2 separate regions of the Homo sapiens genome follow, and region 2 is linked to region 1. The links come from fine-mapping of genetic effects on gene expression. Tissue or cell type: Th1/17 cells. Region 1 holds a variant in brackets; the other region holds the start of a gene. All regions are shown on one strand. Distances are from middle to middle.

Region 1 (8,000 bases):
TTTGGGTGGGATAAAGGGGATATTTTGCAGACCCAAAGAAAATAAATTCTTGAGATTTTTTCCCAGAAATCCATGGGAGGAAGGCTGAAGTATCCTTATTCTTATCAGAAAACATATTTGAATTTTATTACCAATATCTTTAACCCCATTTTGTAGATGGGAAATCTTTGAGGCTCAAAGAGCAAAGAAGGCTAACATTTGTTGAGCACTTAATAAATGAAACTGTCAATATTAGTAATTATTATCGCCATCATCATTATCTTTATTTAACCTATAGCACAGCCCTGTGAGGTGTTATCACTGCCATTTACAGATATGTAAAGCAAGATTCAGGCAGTTCAGATAACTAGCTAGGATTACACATTGAGCTTGTAGTGAGCCAGGATTCAATCGCAGTTCAACTTAACTCCAAAATCCATATTCTTTTTACTGCATCAAGGTAGATTTAAGATCTTTACATGACAAGAGTTGCCAGGTAAAATGTAGGAGGCCCAGTTAAATTTGATTGTCATATAAATAATGACTAGTATAAGTATATCCCATGAAATATTTGAACATACTTACATTTAAAAATAGTGGACCATAGTATACTAGAAAATTCGTTGTTTATCTGACATACAAGGTTAACCAGGTATCCTGTATTTTCATTTGCTAAAATCAAGCAACCCTGTATGTGGGTAGTGGGTTTTCAGATTGTATGATCGTACTTTCTGACTTCTGACTCCAAGTCCATCCATCCTTTCTATGTGCCACATTCTGTTCTGTCTCATTCTTGGGTCTCTGCTGTCCTCTTGGGGAAGAGAGTGAATGGCTTACCTACTCTAGCCCCTGTACTAAGGGGCCCAGTGGCTCATGCCTGTAATCCTAGCACTTTGGGAGGCCGAGGCGGGTGGATCATCTGAGGTCAGGAGTTTGAGACCAGCCTGGCCAACATGGTAAAACCCCGTCTCTACTAAAAATACAAAAATTAGTTGGGCGCAGTGACGGGCTCCTGTAATCTCAGCTACTTGGGAGGCTGAGGCAGGAGAATTGCTCAAACCTAGAAAATGAAGATTGCAGTGAGCTAAGATTGCGCCACTGCACTCCAGCCTGGTGACAGAGTGAGACTCTGTCTCAACAACAGCAACAACAACAACAACAAAGTAGCCAGGTGTGGTGGCCCATGCTTGTAATCCCAGCTACTAGAGAGGATGAGGTGGGAGGATCGCCTGAGCCTGGGATGTTGAGGTGCAGTGAGCTGTGATTGTGCCACTGTACTCCAGCCTGGGCAACAGAGAGAGATTCTGTCTCAAAGAAAAAAAAAACATCAGTGAACACATAGAAGTAGTTCACCTTTTCTTCACCCACATTATGCATGTTTTCATTTGCTTAATTTTAGAGACGAAGGAGTGAGAGCCAGTTAGTTGCCTTACTAACGATAGAAAGAATCAGGCCACCATTCTGCTACAACAAATTTAGGAAAAGGCTTTTATTTTGGGTATGATTACAGTCAGAGCAATAAGGGTGAGTTAGAAAATGGAACAACAGAACCTCCTGGGGTCTTTTTTGTGAGAAAAATAATAATGTTTTGGTTAATGTTAGATTGAATGTCCATTATGTGCCAGGCAATTTACATGCATCATTGTTGCAGGCTGCCCTGAGAGGTAGTTATTTTTATCAGCCCCATTTTAAAGATGTGGAAACTGATAGAGATGTGATGTGCACAGCCCCAGGTCAAACAGCAGTGAGACGCAGAGCTGGAATTTCAGCCAGGTGTCTCCACCCTGGAGGCCTGTTCTTAGTGCACTGTGCTGCCAAGGCTAAAGCCTTTTATCTGGGCCTGGTCTCTGTCCTAGAGACTGCCTTGTCGGGTGGCCTTGTGGAAATCTGCTCTTTGGCTTGGGGAGGCAGACACTGCACCAGCAGCTTGTTCCATCTAGCCTTAGGAAGCTTCACCTTCCCGGACAAAAAGGGTCAATCCAAAAGTGGCTTTTGACACCTGTGCCAAACTAGGAAGCCGCAGTGGCTTCTTCGGGAATTAGGCCTTAGCCCCGTGGAAGAAACTCTGTCCTGTGTGGTCTTCTGTGTGCAGTGGAAACTTTCAGCAAGGCTTCTAAATTCTTGATGATCACAGGATCGCTTTGCACCGAAAACTGGCATCTGGCCTGCGCTTCATTGAGGGTTCCCTACTTTTGGCGAGAGCTTTTGAAGGCCTGGGTCTGTGAGTTTTCCTTTATTAGTAAATGATAACAAAGCACTTTAAAGAAAGGAGACACGTCCGTGGTGGTAGTTCTTGCTGTGTGAAGAAAGGGAGCACTGGATCTGAGAACAAACCTCTCCCAAGTTGGTCCCTGGGGCTCCTCCTGCTGCTGCTGCTGGGAGCCCCTTCCTTGCACCAGTGGTCGGCTGCTTCCCATGTTCTCTCGCGCTCTCTGTAGGACTCTGCCTGCGATGACTGTCCTCCCTTCCTGAGCCATTTATAAAAACAGACTGTTTCCATTTCTAAGTGACTAAAGGGATTCCTTGAAGTAGTGAGATCAAAGATGCGTTTGGAATTTGTCTCTGAGTGAATACTAACGGCTTGTCATGGAGACATGTCACAGGGGAGCCCGATCTTGGGAAAACCAAATGAAAGCCTTAGGAGCCAGAGAGCGATCAGGGTGGGGAGTGACAGATGCAGGGAATTTTGGATCAGACAAACCAGAAATGATCACTTTCCACATATGCGACTTTGGGTGAGTTGTGTTTGTATCTGTGAACCTCAGTTTTCCTAATCTGAAATAGCATTAGTCATGCCGACCTCAGAGAGTCCTAGAAATTAAGTGACTATTATGTATAAAATGCCAGGCATGGTGACTCAGATCCAGTATTTACTCGATACTTTTTCCCCTCTTCATACCCTAATATGGTAATGGAAAATGGATTTTGATGGATTTTGTAGGCACATTTTAAAATTAAAAGCTATTGCAGAATTCCAGCTAGTCATTCACTGGTGTTCATAAGGTTAGTGGGTGCCTACTACGTTCCAGGCTCACTTTAAGTGGCTGGGGAATGGAGTATTATGAGACAGACACGAGTCCTGCCTCTTTGTAGCTTCCATTCTGGACCGGGAAGTCGGTAACAGACAAAGCAGCAGAGGGAGTACACTTTTAATGTCAGGCAGGGAAAAGAGATATGAGAGGATTTGGCTGTGGTAGTCTGTGAGGGCCTCTTTGAGGAGGTGTCGTTTGCATATAACACTTTCTCATGGTGAAGTGGCTGCTATGCTATGCTGACAAATAGCCATAGCTGACCAGATGAGTCCTTCCCACATTGCAAACAGGTTTTCATGTGCACATCTTGATGGCTCTCCCATTTCCTTACCCCTCTTCTTTCCTGCAAGCTCCTGTTGTCCTCTCAGTGTCATATTACTGAACAGAGTTGAATTACCCACAGAAAGCTTTCATTAATCTTGCTGTCCCATTGGGGTGTTACTGTAAACCTTGGCACCCAGAGCGTCTGCCACGGAAGTGGCTTCTAGCAAGGGGAGAAGGTGAAGCCTGAGATGGGGTAGAGTGAGGAAGAGTGAGATGTGAGCCAAGAGAGTCCTTAAACATTTCATGAGGTTCCACAGAGCCTGCGATCACACTCTTGCGGCCGTGCCGTTGCCAGTGAGAATTGATGCCTTCAGCCCAGGGTACTGGGAGCCTCCCAGCAAGGTGATGTGCCACGTAAACATGCTCCTAAAGGACCTGAATGCTAATATCCATAGGAACTGCTCTGCAGCTTCTTTTAATTAGCTGAGATGGATTTTGGGAGGTCAGCGTAACACATTCAAGTGAAATTTATGTTGGTTTTCTTTGTAAACTGTTGCAGTTGGAATTCTTCCCAGTGAGTGGTCAAAGTGCTCTTTTTTGCTTGTTTTGATGAGATTTGGGTAGAGGTGAAATAGAGGTGGGGGGTGAAAGTAGGCCAAAAAATTTGAAAATATACTTTTTTTTTTTTTTTTTTTTGAGACGGAGTCTCCCTCTGTCGCTCAGGCTGGAGTGCAGTGGCGCAATCTCAGCTCACTGCAAGCTCCGTCTCCCGGGATCACTCCATTCTCCTGCCTCAGCCTCCCGAGTAGCTGGGACTACAGGTGCCCGCCACCACGCCCGGCTAATTTTTTGTATTTTTAGTAGAGATGGGGTTTCACTGTGTTAGCCAGGATGGTCTCGAGCTCCTGACCTCGTGATCCGCCCGCCTCTGCCTCCCAAAGTGTGAAAATATACTTATATCCTGCCAACTCTAAGTCCTAACATCCATCTTGCAATAGGCAAATGAAGACACTGATGGACAAAGGTTATTCTTACTTTTTATCTGAGCTCAGGGATTTGGTTTTATTAGCTCTTTAGCCTACCTGTTAGCTCTTAGCCACTTCTTAGAACCCAATTCCCTCAGCAGTTGAAGACCTCCTTGTTTTGCACTAAATACGCATTTGGTCCAGGTGAGTATAGACTAG[C/T]GGTTCCCAACCTTTTTGGCACCAGGAACCGGTTTCGTGGAAGACAATTTTTTCACGGACCAGGAGGGTGGTGTGGGGATGGTTTCAGGATGAAACTGTTCCACCTGAGATCATCAGGCAGTAGTTAGACTCTCATAAGGAGCGTGCAACCCAGATCCCTCACGTGCACAGTTCACAATAGGGTTCACTCTCCTATGAGATTCTAATGCCACCAGTGATCTGACAGGAGGCAGAGCTCAGGTGGTAATCCTCGCTTGCCTGTCACTCGCTTCCTGCTTTGCAGCCCGGTTCCTAACAGGCCACGGACTAGGGTCGGTCTGCTGCCCAAGGGTTGGGGCCCCCTGCTGCAGACCCAGTGTTGGTATATGCAAATATTGCTTGCCCTTTTGGAGTCTGGAAATGTTGGCCACTGTCTGGTCATTCACTTGCTTTGACTCACCCTTTCTCCACGTCCTTTTCTCAACTTTCCCTCTGTGGATTAGAGCCACAAATCTATGCCCTCATTTTCCAGTCCTGAAAATGGAGACATGTGACCTGGCATAGTTTTTGTTGTTTCTTCCAGGACTGAAGTAATCTGGGAAATGTAGTTTGGCTGCCAAGAATTTGGCCTTTCCTAGACACATTGCTGGTTGATTAGAACAACAGAGGAGAATGTTAGTCTGGGAGGCGTGCTCACATTCCCAGTGTAGCTCAGGGGACCCTTTCACCAGATAGGACTCACAGACTTCTCAAGTCCCTATTGCGATGTGGCTTCTGGGACACCTTCAACCTCTGTCCCTGGTAAGCCAATGGCTGCTTCATTTCCCATGTTGGTTTCCCCCAATTTTCTGGGACCTCCACATTAATACCTACTTTCCCGTTTCCTTTTAAATCTCCTGGCAGTTCTACTGCTTGGAATGCATTCTACAGATATACTTGCGTAGATAAGAGATGACCCATTTCATAATAGCAATCACATCTAACACTTGCTGAGGATTTACCTGGTTTCTGGAACTAAGAATTTTACATATTTTTCATGTATTTCATTCTTTAAAAAACTCTGTGAGGTGGGACTGATAGTATCTTCATTTTCAGATAAGGCAATTTAAGCAGGAAGAAAGTAAAATGTAACCAAAGGTGTATTTTTTTTTAATTGCAGCTGTGGTTTTAATAAGAAAAGATTAGAAACAATGTAATCAATGTGTGTCTAATTAAATACATAATGCTTTATTGCCAATACCATAGGATACTGTGCAGCCACAGAAAAATGGTATTGAATATCTTCATATAATAGCGTGGAAATCCCTCCATAATACATGAAGTGAAAACAAGTAAGTCTGTATATAAAATGCAGGCTGGGCATGGTAGCTCAGGCCTGTAATCCCAGCACTTTTGGAGGCTGAGGCGGGTGGATCACCTAGTTCGAGACCAGCCTGGCCAACCTGCTGAAACCCTGTCTTTACTAAAAATACAAAAAGTTAGCCAGGCATGGTGGTGGGCGTCTATAATCCCAGCTACTTGGAAGGCTGAGGCAGGAGAATCGCTTGAACCAGGGAGGTGGAGGTTGCAGGGAGCTAAGATCACCTCACTGCACTCCAGCCTGGGCAACAAGAGCAAAACTCTGTCTCAAATAAAAAAACAAAAAAAAGTATAATATGCATAAATTAGCTCAACCATTGTGGAAGACAGTGTGGCCATCATCTTCAGCAAACTAACACAGTAAGAGCAAACCAAACACTGCATGTTCTCACTCACAAGTGGGAGCTGAGCAATGAGAACACATGGACACAGGGAGGGGAACGTCACACATCCCTGGGCCTGTCGGGGGTTGGGAGGTGAAGGGAGGGAGAGCATCAGATTTTTATTATTAGTTAATTTGTTTTGGTCGTCATGACTAGACAGTAATTCACATGGTTTAAAACAAGTATCAAAATATAGTGAAAACAGTCTCCCTTCCACCTGCGTGCCTCCTCTGCCAGCACTGCCCCTCTCCACCATAGATACTCACTATCATTAGTCCCTTGGGTAATGTTCTAGAAATTATAGGGCAAAATTGTCCTCTGTCAAACCCCTTACACAACTGAAGCATATTACACTTTAGTTTATTCATTTTTTTCTTTCTCTCTTCCAGCTCTGTGTCATCTCCCTGTTCCTTTCTTATCTTCCCAAACAAGATTTCTCTCATCTGGTGATGCGAATGAAACTACAGTCTTGTAGTTACCTGGGCTTGAAGCTCTAGAATCATGTTAGACCTATCTTCTTCGTCTTTTGTATTTAATTTAATTTTACTTTAAGTTCCTGGATGCATGTGTGGAACACGCAGGTTTGTTACCTAGGTAAATGTGTGCCGTGGTGGTTTTGCTGCACCTGTCAATATATCACCTAGGTATGAAGCCCCACATGCACTAACTGTTTGTTCTGATGCATTTTCCTTGAAAGGAGGCCTCTAGTTTTCACCAAGTTATCAAAAATATTCAAGATCCCCTTAGGTTGCTTAGGATGGTGGTAACTGTTCCTTGTTACCTTAGAAAGGATGCAGATATTCTTATGTAACCTGTCTGTAGGCATGTTCTCTAGGGCCATCAAATGCTTTTTTTGTTTTTTTTTTGAGATGGTGTCTCGCTGTGTCCCCCAGGTTGGAGTGCAGTGGCGCGATCTCAGCTCACTGCAAGCTCCGCCTCCTGGGTTCACGCCGTTCTCCTGCCTCAGCCTCCCGAGTAGCTGGGACTACAGGCGCCCGCCAACACGCCCAGCTAATTTTTTGTATTTTTAGTAGAAACGGGGTTTCACCGTGTTAGCCAAGATGGTCTCGATCTCCTGACCTCGTGATCCGCCTGTCTCGGCCTCCCAAAGTGCTGGGATTACAGGCGTGAGCCACCGCGCCCGGCCAGCCATCAAATGCTTTTAAAAAATTGAATTAATTGCCAACTCTAACAACTGAAGGATTTCACATAGAAATGTGGATTCAGTGCTTAGGTAGGAAAATGGAAGATTTGGCAGCCCTACGCTTGCATTTCTACATGGCCACGGTCCTCCAGAGCTAGGTAGAGGATGCCTCTTTCATGGAGAGAGTGTTCTCTTTTTTGCCTCAGGCCACTCTTACAACCTGTTGTAGTCTAAATGACACTGGCTTGGCTTGAGAAGAAGTGGGTCCTAGTCTCTTTTCTTCCTAAAGCAACTCTTTAAAAATGTGAATATTTTTTCAGATGATAAAAATGAGATTCAGACAGTTTAGATGGAATCAGCCTCAGTTGTTCACTGAAGTGGGTTAGGATAATGTGAAACTTGAACTCAGATCATCTAACTTTATTCTAATATTCTTTCCACTGAACCACAGTTGTCCCCCATTATTGTTACGATTTTTGACCTTCAAGGCATTCCTAGAGATAGGTAGAGTATTATAGGCATTTCACAGATGAGTAAGTTGAAACTTGGTTCAGCTCTGAAAAAGGAAAGTTACGTTCTAAAAGGGCAGAGCTCATATTTGGTCTCAGGTTTTTTGACTCAAACACTATACTCCTTTAGTGGTACTCAAAAACCTCAGAGATCCATATAATTCTGA
Region 2 (8,000 bases), 610 kb before region 1:
GTATAGAATATCACCAACTTATCAACAAACAGATAACACACAATGCGATTTAATTATGCACAATGTGATTTAAGCAAAAACAACTAGGCTTTTGCTTAAATCATGTTCCCTGAAATATGCTTACTTCCTCCAATGGAAGCCTGATATAACTTGAATGGTTGGCACTTTATTCATGACTCAAGGATTAGAGTTAGTATTTTTTATCTTAATTACAAAAAAATTATTTTTTTCCTCTCAGTTCCTCCTGTCAAAAATTTTACTTTTTAGGGTTTGAATCCTTTTGGTTAGGTTTAGAAGATCTCCCTGAACAGAATAGAAACATAATCTATTTACTTTTTGAGATTTATGAATGTTTTCTGTAGAGGCTTGTGAATATAGCAACCGAGTTAGAACAATAAATACAGTAAAGTACTTATATGTACTATTTTAAATCTTAGAATCCAGTGAAATCTGTAGCCTCATCTCAATATTTCTTTTTTTATTTAATTCACTATAAGGTAATGGGCTTTTCCTTCCCTTTCTGTGCTCTCTGATATATTCAGAAATTTTTGAATCATTCTAAATATCACAATTTCTGATATTAAAATATTTTAAACCCTTCATTTTATTAGTAATGACAATTCCTATTTGGCCAAGTGCTTATGAATTCAGATTTGTGATCACGTAATCAGTATTGAAATCTAGATGGAGTAACATCACAGAGTTCTACACTTAGGTAGACCTCAATCCCCTTGCTACAATTCATGTTTTGGAGACATGGGGCAAATTACTTAAATTCACTGAGCTTCAATTTCCTCATCTGGAAAATAGTGATATCTGACAATATTGTAGTGATTAAAGGAGATGATGTATGTCAAGATGCTTAGACAGAGCTTGGCACTTGTAATTTCCCAACAAATGCTACTTATAACAAGGATAAAAAAATAGTAGTAATAAATTATCTATTGAGTACTTACTATGTAACCACAATTATGACCAAGAATCTGGAAGATATGAAGCATAAGACTCAGTTCCAGCACTCGAAGTGCTTATATACTATAAGGAACAAACAATAGCATCATAATGAACACAGAATTTGGCTTATGAGAGGTATGGGATGAGGTCTGGACTTTGCCCCTTGCTAAAATTGGGTATATCTGTTAGGAACTGTACTTGGCTGCTGATAAAAAAGACCAAAAATAAGTCATGATTGCAGTCTGTGAAAGATACTAAAGCAGAAGCTAAGCTGTGCCCAAATTACTGAGCCACAGAAACTGAAGTAATACATGGGTATTGTTGTAAACCACTAAATATTGGGATAATTTGTTAACAGCAATCGATTAATACATGTGGCTCATCATGTTGTTGTATACAATTGTAATTCCTTCATTTGCATTACTTTATAGGAGGGTTTGGAAAGCTTTTTTTCTGCAAAGGATCAGGTAGGAAATATTTGAGGCTTTGTAGGACAAGAGGCAAAATTGAGGATATTATGTAAGTATGTCTTTATAATTTCCAGGCTTTGCAAATTATACTTTTTTTGTTTTTTTTCCAACCATTTAAAAATGTAAAAATCACACCTAGCTGGTGAGTTATAAGAAATAAATGGTGAGCCATATTTGGCTCATTGGTCTTAGTTTGTTGACCCCTGCTATATGGAATTATTTGGTTATACCACAGTTCATCTCTCCAATCTGTGTTGATAAATATTTGAGTTGTTTTCCATTTGGGAACATTAAAATAATGCAGCCACAAACATTCTTGCACATGTCTTTTGGAGAACATCTGTATGCATATTTGTTTGGTGTAAACCTAGGAGTAGAACTTCTGGGTCACAGGATAAGCATATATTCAGCTGAATATTTCAGATGGTTTTCCAAAGTGGTTTTGTGAATTTGCACACCACCAGCAATATATAAATCTTTATTGCTTCACAATCTTGCCAACGGTTGGTATTTTGTGTCTTTATCTTTCAAACATTCTAGAGATAAATGTAATTTTTTTTTAGTACTTCCCAGGTGATTCTAATGTTCAGCCAGAATTGAAAACCTCTGCGCAACTATTGTTTATCCCTTATTAGGCAGAACCACATGAAATTGTTCTATTTGTAGGTTTTAAAAATGGTCAAACATTGGCTATTTCATATGGTAGAAACTAACATCTCCTTCACATTTTATTTATACTAAAAATAAAACTCGTCTAGAATGCACATCACTGGGAAAAATATTAAAGATGAGCTAAGATGAAGTTTTAAAATTAACCACAGATTTCAATGACTTTTATATTTTTATATCACCCAGATATTTAAAAGCTTGGAACCAGACCAATGGTTTTCACCCTCAATGAAGACTGGAATCACCTGTGGGTTTTTAAAACCTGAGTGCCTCTACCCAAACCCCCATAAGCTCTGATTCTGTGAGACTAAGATAAAAGCTTAGGAATATATATTTGTAGAAGGCTGATGCACAGCCAAGGTTGAGAACCATTGATACTACCTGTCCTATGGCTTTCTTTCACATTCATTCAATCTCAGAAAATACTTAACACTTTGGTGATTTTATATACATAAAGTAGTGAAGCACCTGGATTTCAGTTCTTTCCAGAGTTTAGAATGCTTGGCTGTGTATTAGGTCGGAAAATTCTTTTTCCCATGGAAATTATGTCTCACTGAATGGGTCTCTCTCTACTGTACCTAAAAGAGAGGCTTAGGTTTGACTTGTACACAGCTCCATGGACTCAGAATTAAAGTATCAACAAGAGCATTTAATGGTTACACGCAGGTATTTTTTAAAGTACCTATACACATATTATTATTATATATTACCCAGTAGGGGAACTAAGCATGTAATTAGTGACCAGAACAACAGGTGTGCATGTATACACTGAGAAACGAAATTGTTTTGAAAAACATTTTTTTTTTTTTGCTGATGACCAAGACACACAAAAATGTCTAAGTAGTCATCATGGGAAGAATCCGATTTTTGTACTTCCTCATTTTACAGAGATTAACATTATATATGAGTGACTGGGTGGATGTGGTACCAAATACATTTGTAAACTGAAGGCCTTTAAAAGTCAATCCAGTCTTGAGCCAGATTTATTCCCGAGGCTATTCCCTTACCCCTTCCAGCCACAACTGTATCCGTATTTTCACACGCAGGAAAAAATGTTTAGAAACTTAATTTTTACGAGCTGTCGAATTGTATTGCTATCCACGTGATTCCCATTATCATGTCTGCTTATAGCATCCCCAGCACCTACAGCTAGGACATAGGTTCAGAAGTTGAAGGAACCTGATTCTCAGGCACTGTTAATTATTAGGCCCTATCACAGGCTGTCAACAGGCTCCAAGTCTAGGCAAATTGAAAGCCTCCTATCCTGGAAGCCAGACAGGCTTTCATCTGACCTCCTCCGGTGCAATCCTGGCTCCCAGACTTTGTTCCTAACAACCCCTTGGGGACGTTGCCTATTGGGGTTTAAGCCACTCCTCCTCCCCTACACCCCCATGCCAAGTATTTAGCCACCTGAACCACCCTGTAGGATAAGACAACTGTATCAACCGTCGGAATTCCCCCACAAAACCCATACATCTCAGGGTGCGAAGGAACAAGTTTCAACCTCACCCTGGGCAGCGTTCTCTGGCCCAGGTGGAGAACCACACAGGAGGACAGTGGTCCTGCTCTCCCTACTAAATGGTGGTTCAGGAGGCCAGGGGGCGGGGCGGTACCGGCGGCAGAGGCCCACGGACGAGCTCGCAGGAGCTCATCACACAGCTGACCGTCACCTGCCCACCTCACCACACCTGCTAGGTGCCAAACCCCTTGTAATGGACAGGGAAGGGCTCAATCACGGGTCCCTACTCTTAGCAGCGAACCTATCTCAGCGCACGGCCTCCTGGGAGATGTAGTCCAGACCGCTTCCCGGGAACCCCCCCCCCCTCCCCCCCCGCCCCGCCACAACCAGGCATCCCTGGTCCCCTCACAACTTCCCCAGGAGAGATTGCTCGGCCTGGCCAGCTGAAGCTGGAGTTGCTCTCCAAGTGTCGGGGCCAGGCGGCACTCCGCGGAGGAGTCGGGGTGCTCTCCCCAGTCCGAGCGAAGGGAGGGAACTACACTTCCCAGGACGCCCTGCGCGCGCCGAGCCGGGAGCCGGCTGCCTCGCTTTGCGTGACCGCGGCAGGTTGGTCCTGGAGCAGATAAGCGCAGAATATTTAGGCGAAAGCGAGAGGAAGGGGGGAGCGCGGGGCAGGAGGAGTACCTCGGCCAAGAAAATTATGCATGCGTTAGGGAAGCTCTGAGAGAATGGCTGTGGAAGGTAAGGGACGCTTGGGGCATTTTTAAGCTCCCTCTTAACCCGCGCACCCCAAGGCACACATCCCCGATGAAGCTTGGCGATCGTGGGGAGGCGAGGAAAGGGGGTGGCGGAGAGCGGGCCCCTTCCTCCTCCACCTCTTGGCACTCACCTGCGCCGCCAAGGCCAGTAGGCGCTTTAATTCAGTTGCTTTGGAGAGACGTGAAGGGTAGGTGCGTAGGACTTTGAGGTAGGAGGTGTGGAGACGAGTGTCCCTGATGCGAAACGATATCCTGGAAATGGGGGGAAAGCCGGAGGATCCGGCATGAGGTTTTGGCCCCGAGATGCCCTTTTTCCCTGCCCCCTCCCTCCGGAGCAGGCTGGGTGGCCCCGGGGCTGGGGATGCTTGGTTGGCCCCCCTCACGTGGGAGAGGTCCCCAGCCCAGGTGCGTCATCCGGAAGCTTGGACTGGGATTGGGTCGAGGGCCCTTCGTCCTATGCACCCAGCAGCGGCGGCCGCAGATGTACCCAGAGGGTAGAGGTGTCCCTACACCTGTCTCTGCTTATACAGCCAGCGCCCCGGGCTTAGCAAAGTTTACAGACATGAAATGTAATCAGCCAGGGAAAAGAAGTGCAACAACCTCTTCGATTTGGGTGAATCCTTTTCTTTGAAGATCACTTTCTTCTTACAGTCTTGAGCTTCGGCTTTGCAGTTTTGACCGTAAAGTCCTGCCTCCCTTGAACTTCCTGGTTGAAAGCAGGGTCAGGCTGTTCGTGAGGGATCCTGAGTTTTTCATTTCAGGTTATCTTACCTTGGAACACAAACTTCCTTGTTTAGGTAGTTTCTGAAGAAGAAAAAAAAACTGTGGACCGGAAGGGTTTGTGATGTCACATTAGAGGTCAAGCTGTGCCTGAATGATGAAATGATTGTGGGACGAAATGGGAGCCTACATTCACCTGCAGAATTTTGGTTTCTGAGTGCAGTCAGGTCAGAGGGCGTACTGAAGTAGGAAGAGGAGGGCTTGCCTGCCAGCTGCTTCAGGCGCCTTGCCAAGGGGAAATCAGCCTATTCCTTGTAGGCTAGAGACGAGAAGGCCACGAGGCTGGCTTGCTGCTCCCTCTCCTCCCTGCCCCAGGAGAAAGAAATTGAACTAATCTGACTCTTGCTCCCCTTATAACGACTGTCTTAACAACCTGAAGTAGCAACAACCCAGCTCCTATACTCAGCACCCATAAACTCGGGAAACTCTTGCCTTTGGGCTATCTCAGGTTCAGAGATCCACAGCCAGCCACTTCCAGCTTTCCTAACTTTATTAACAAAAATGAAATCCTCTCTCTCTCTTACAATCAAGATTTTTCTAGGTTTTCTTTTCTGTGCAAATGTACCAGTAGGGTGAGAATCTTTTTTTTTTTTTTTTTTTTTTTTTTGCATCGTTATGCTTGATAGTCAAGACTTCAGATGCCAAAGAACAAAACAAAAGCCGAGATAAAGTTCATCTTGAGCTTGAGACCAAGGATATGTTGACCTACTCCTTAAGTGTCCGTTCTATGTCACCCATCAGGTGACACTGATTATGATCTCTCGTCTTCACCACTCCTGTGTCCCCAAGACAGGGACACTCCTCTTTGTTGCTAGTCCACACTGTTCTCGAAAACAATTTCTTGTTCCCTGTAAGAAGTATAAATTTGTCTTATTTCTTGCGTGATGGGTGATTACACCAGTGAAGCCAGACTTTACAAAAACAAGAACTTAGGAAGGAAGTACATGTGGACTATGGAGAGTTTATTTTCTAGTGACTTGGTTAAAGTACCTGTCTAGTAAACAGGAGATCCTGAGTTTGAATCACAATGAGGTCTCAAAGAATGAAGGAAGTATTTTAAACTTTAACTTCAAATATGATTCCTATCTTTGGTCTTTGCAAAGATATCAGCCTGGACCAGTCCCTTCCTGGTTACTCCTACTTGGTCTTTCAAGCCTTTGGGAAAATGTCACTTCCTCTGGGAAACTGTCCCAGCCCTCCTTTTTCTTCTGCCTTCTCAGCACTCTTTCCAGTCTATGGGAAGTGCCTCCTGCTCACATTTATCTTAATACTTATCATACTTAATCTGCCTCTTACTAGACTCTAACCCCCTTGGGGGTTAGACTTGGACTTTATATTCCTAGCTCATAGCACAGTACTTTGCCCATAATAGGTACTCAATGCTCATGAATTGCATGGCAAATATATTCATGGAGGTTTTGTAACTGGTTCTATAAGGGTACATGGGGCTTTCTTGGAAGCCTAAATGTGATACAATAAGGGATTTCTGACAGATTTGAGGATGGGAGATTTTTTTTTTTTTTTTTTTGAGACAGAGTCTTGCTCTGTCGCCCAGGCTAGAGTACAGTGGCGCGGTCTCAGCTCACTGCAAGCTCCGCCTCCCAGGTTCACGCCATTCTCCTGCCTCAGCCTCCCAAGTAGCTGGGACTATAGGCACCCGCCACCATGCCTGGCTAATTTTTTTGGTATTTTTAGTAGAGACGGAGTTTCACCATGTTAGCCAGGATGGTCTCGATCTCCTGACCTCGTGATCTGCCCACCTCGAAGTGCCCTTCTCTTCAGTCTTTTGTCTTGATGCCCAAAAAATCTTTTAGAACAGTTTACCTCTACTGCTGGGTGACATTGTCCCTGGACACATTTGGGATATGTAGGAACTGCTGCTGGGGGCTGCTGTTGGTATTTTGTGCCCATGGCCACAGATAATAAATGTCCTGCAGCGCATGGCCATCCCGTATAACGAGGCCAAGCCATGGCCAAGTAATGATCAGTTTACCCAACTTATTGAGAAATGCTGCTTCAGAGAATAAGGAGTTTTGCCAGAGGAACTGGAATAGAAAATACAGTTCGAATTGCTTAACATTCTAAGCTTTAGTCTCCACATCTGGAAAAAATGGGCTCACTACTGCTTTCCTCCTGGGAACATTGTGAGGATTTTTTTTTTTTTTTTTGAGACGGAGTCTTGCTCTGTCGCCCAGGCTGGAATGCAGTGGCGCGATCTCGGCTCACTGCAAGCTCCGCCTCCCGGGTTCACGCCATTTTCCTGCCTCAGCCTCCCGAGTAGCTGGGCTACAGGTGCCTGCTACCACGCCCGGCTGATTTTTTTGTACTTTTAGTAGAGACAGAGTTTCACCATGTTAGCCAGGATGGTCTCCATCTCCTAACCTCGTGATCCGCCCGCCTCGGCCTCCCAAAGTGCTGGGATTACAGGAGTGAGCCACCGTGCCCTGCTCATTGTGAGGATTAAATAAAGGAGAGGGCTTCTAGAAGGGTGTCTGGAACCTGCATCCTAAGTAAATATCACTTGTACTCTCATCCCTTCTCTTAGGAAAAGCTATACTATTTGGCATGTGTTTTATATCCTGAATTTTCACTTATTCATGCCAGCCAGTTTTTCTAATTAGTAACAAATTAGAAGGTTTTTTACTATGTGTAACTTTTTCTTAAGTAAACTTGAATTTGTAAAAGTGTTACTAGCAAGTAGTTCACTCATTCACTTTGCTGAACCTGCAGCCGTGTGTTTAAGATGAAAAAGAGGTGCCCTTTGTTTATTGTTTTGTAACTACCCTGTGTTATGTTTTCTTCTTAGTTTATTTGCAACATCCTATTTATGTCTCCTAGTCTGCTTGTGACCCATGCTTTGCATTTATGGGCAGCTTACAGGTATGCTTTCCCGCCACAGAACAGGGTACG

What was found. PIP is the estimated chance that this variant, and not a neighbour inherited with it, causes the effect.
Region 2: SAMD12 starts here. The variant in region 1 is fine-mapped to the expression of SAMD12 in Th1/17 cells (Schmiedel 2018, PIP 0.95).

Annotation. Positions count from the first base shown.
Region 1 is chr8:118,006,343-118,014,342 of GRCh38, reverse strand. The region is part of intron 1 of EXT1 (exostosin glycosyltransferase 1); the gene reads left to right. Among named protein-coding and RNA genes, the nearest start is that of SNORD168, 89 kb to the right of the region's middle. The variant C/T (reference allele first, on the strand shown) is at 4,460.
Region 2 is chr8:118,618,097-118,626,096 of GRCh38, reverse strand. SAMD12 (sterile alpha motif domain containing 12) reads left to right here and starts at 4,134. Exons shown (of 4, transcript NM_207506.3): 1 at 4,134-4,293. The coding sequence starts at 4,281. SAMD12-AS1 (SAMD12 antisense RNA 1) reads right to left here and starts at 5,096. Exons shown (of 5, transcript NR_038210.1): 1 at 4,911-5,096; 2 at 4,442-4,562. RefSeq lists a silencer at 3,792-3,941 and enhancers at 4,042-4,241, 4,852-5,061, 5,092-5,141.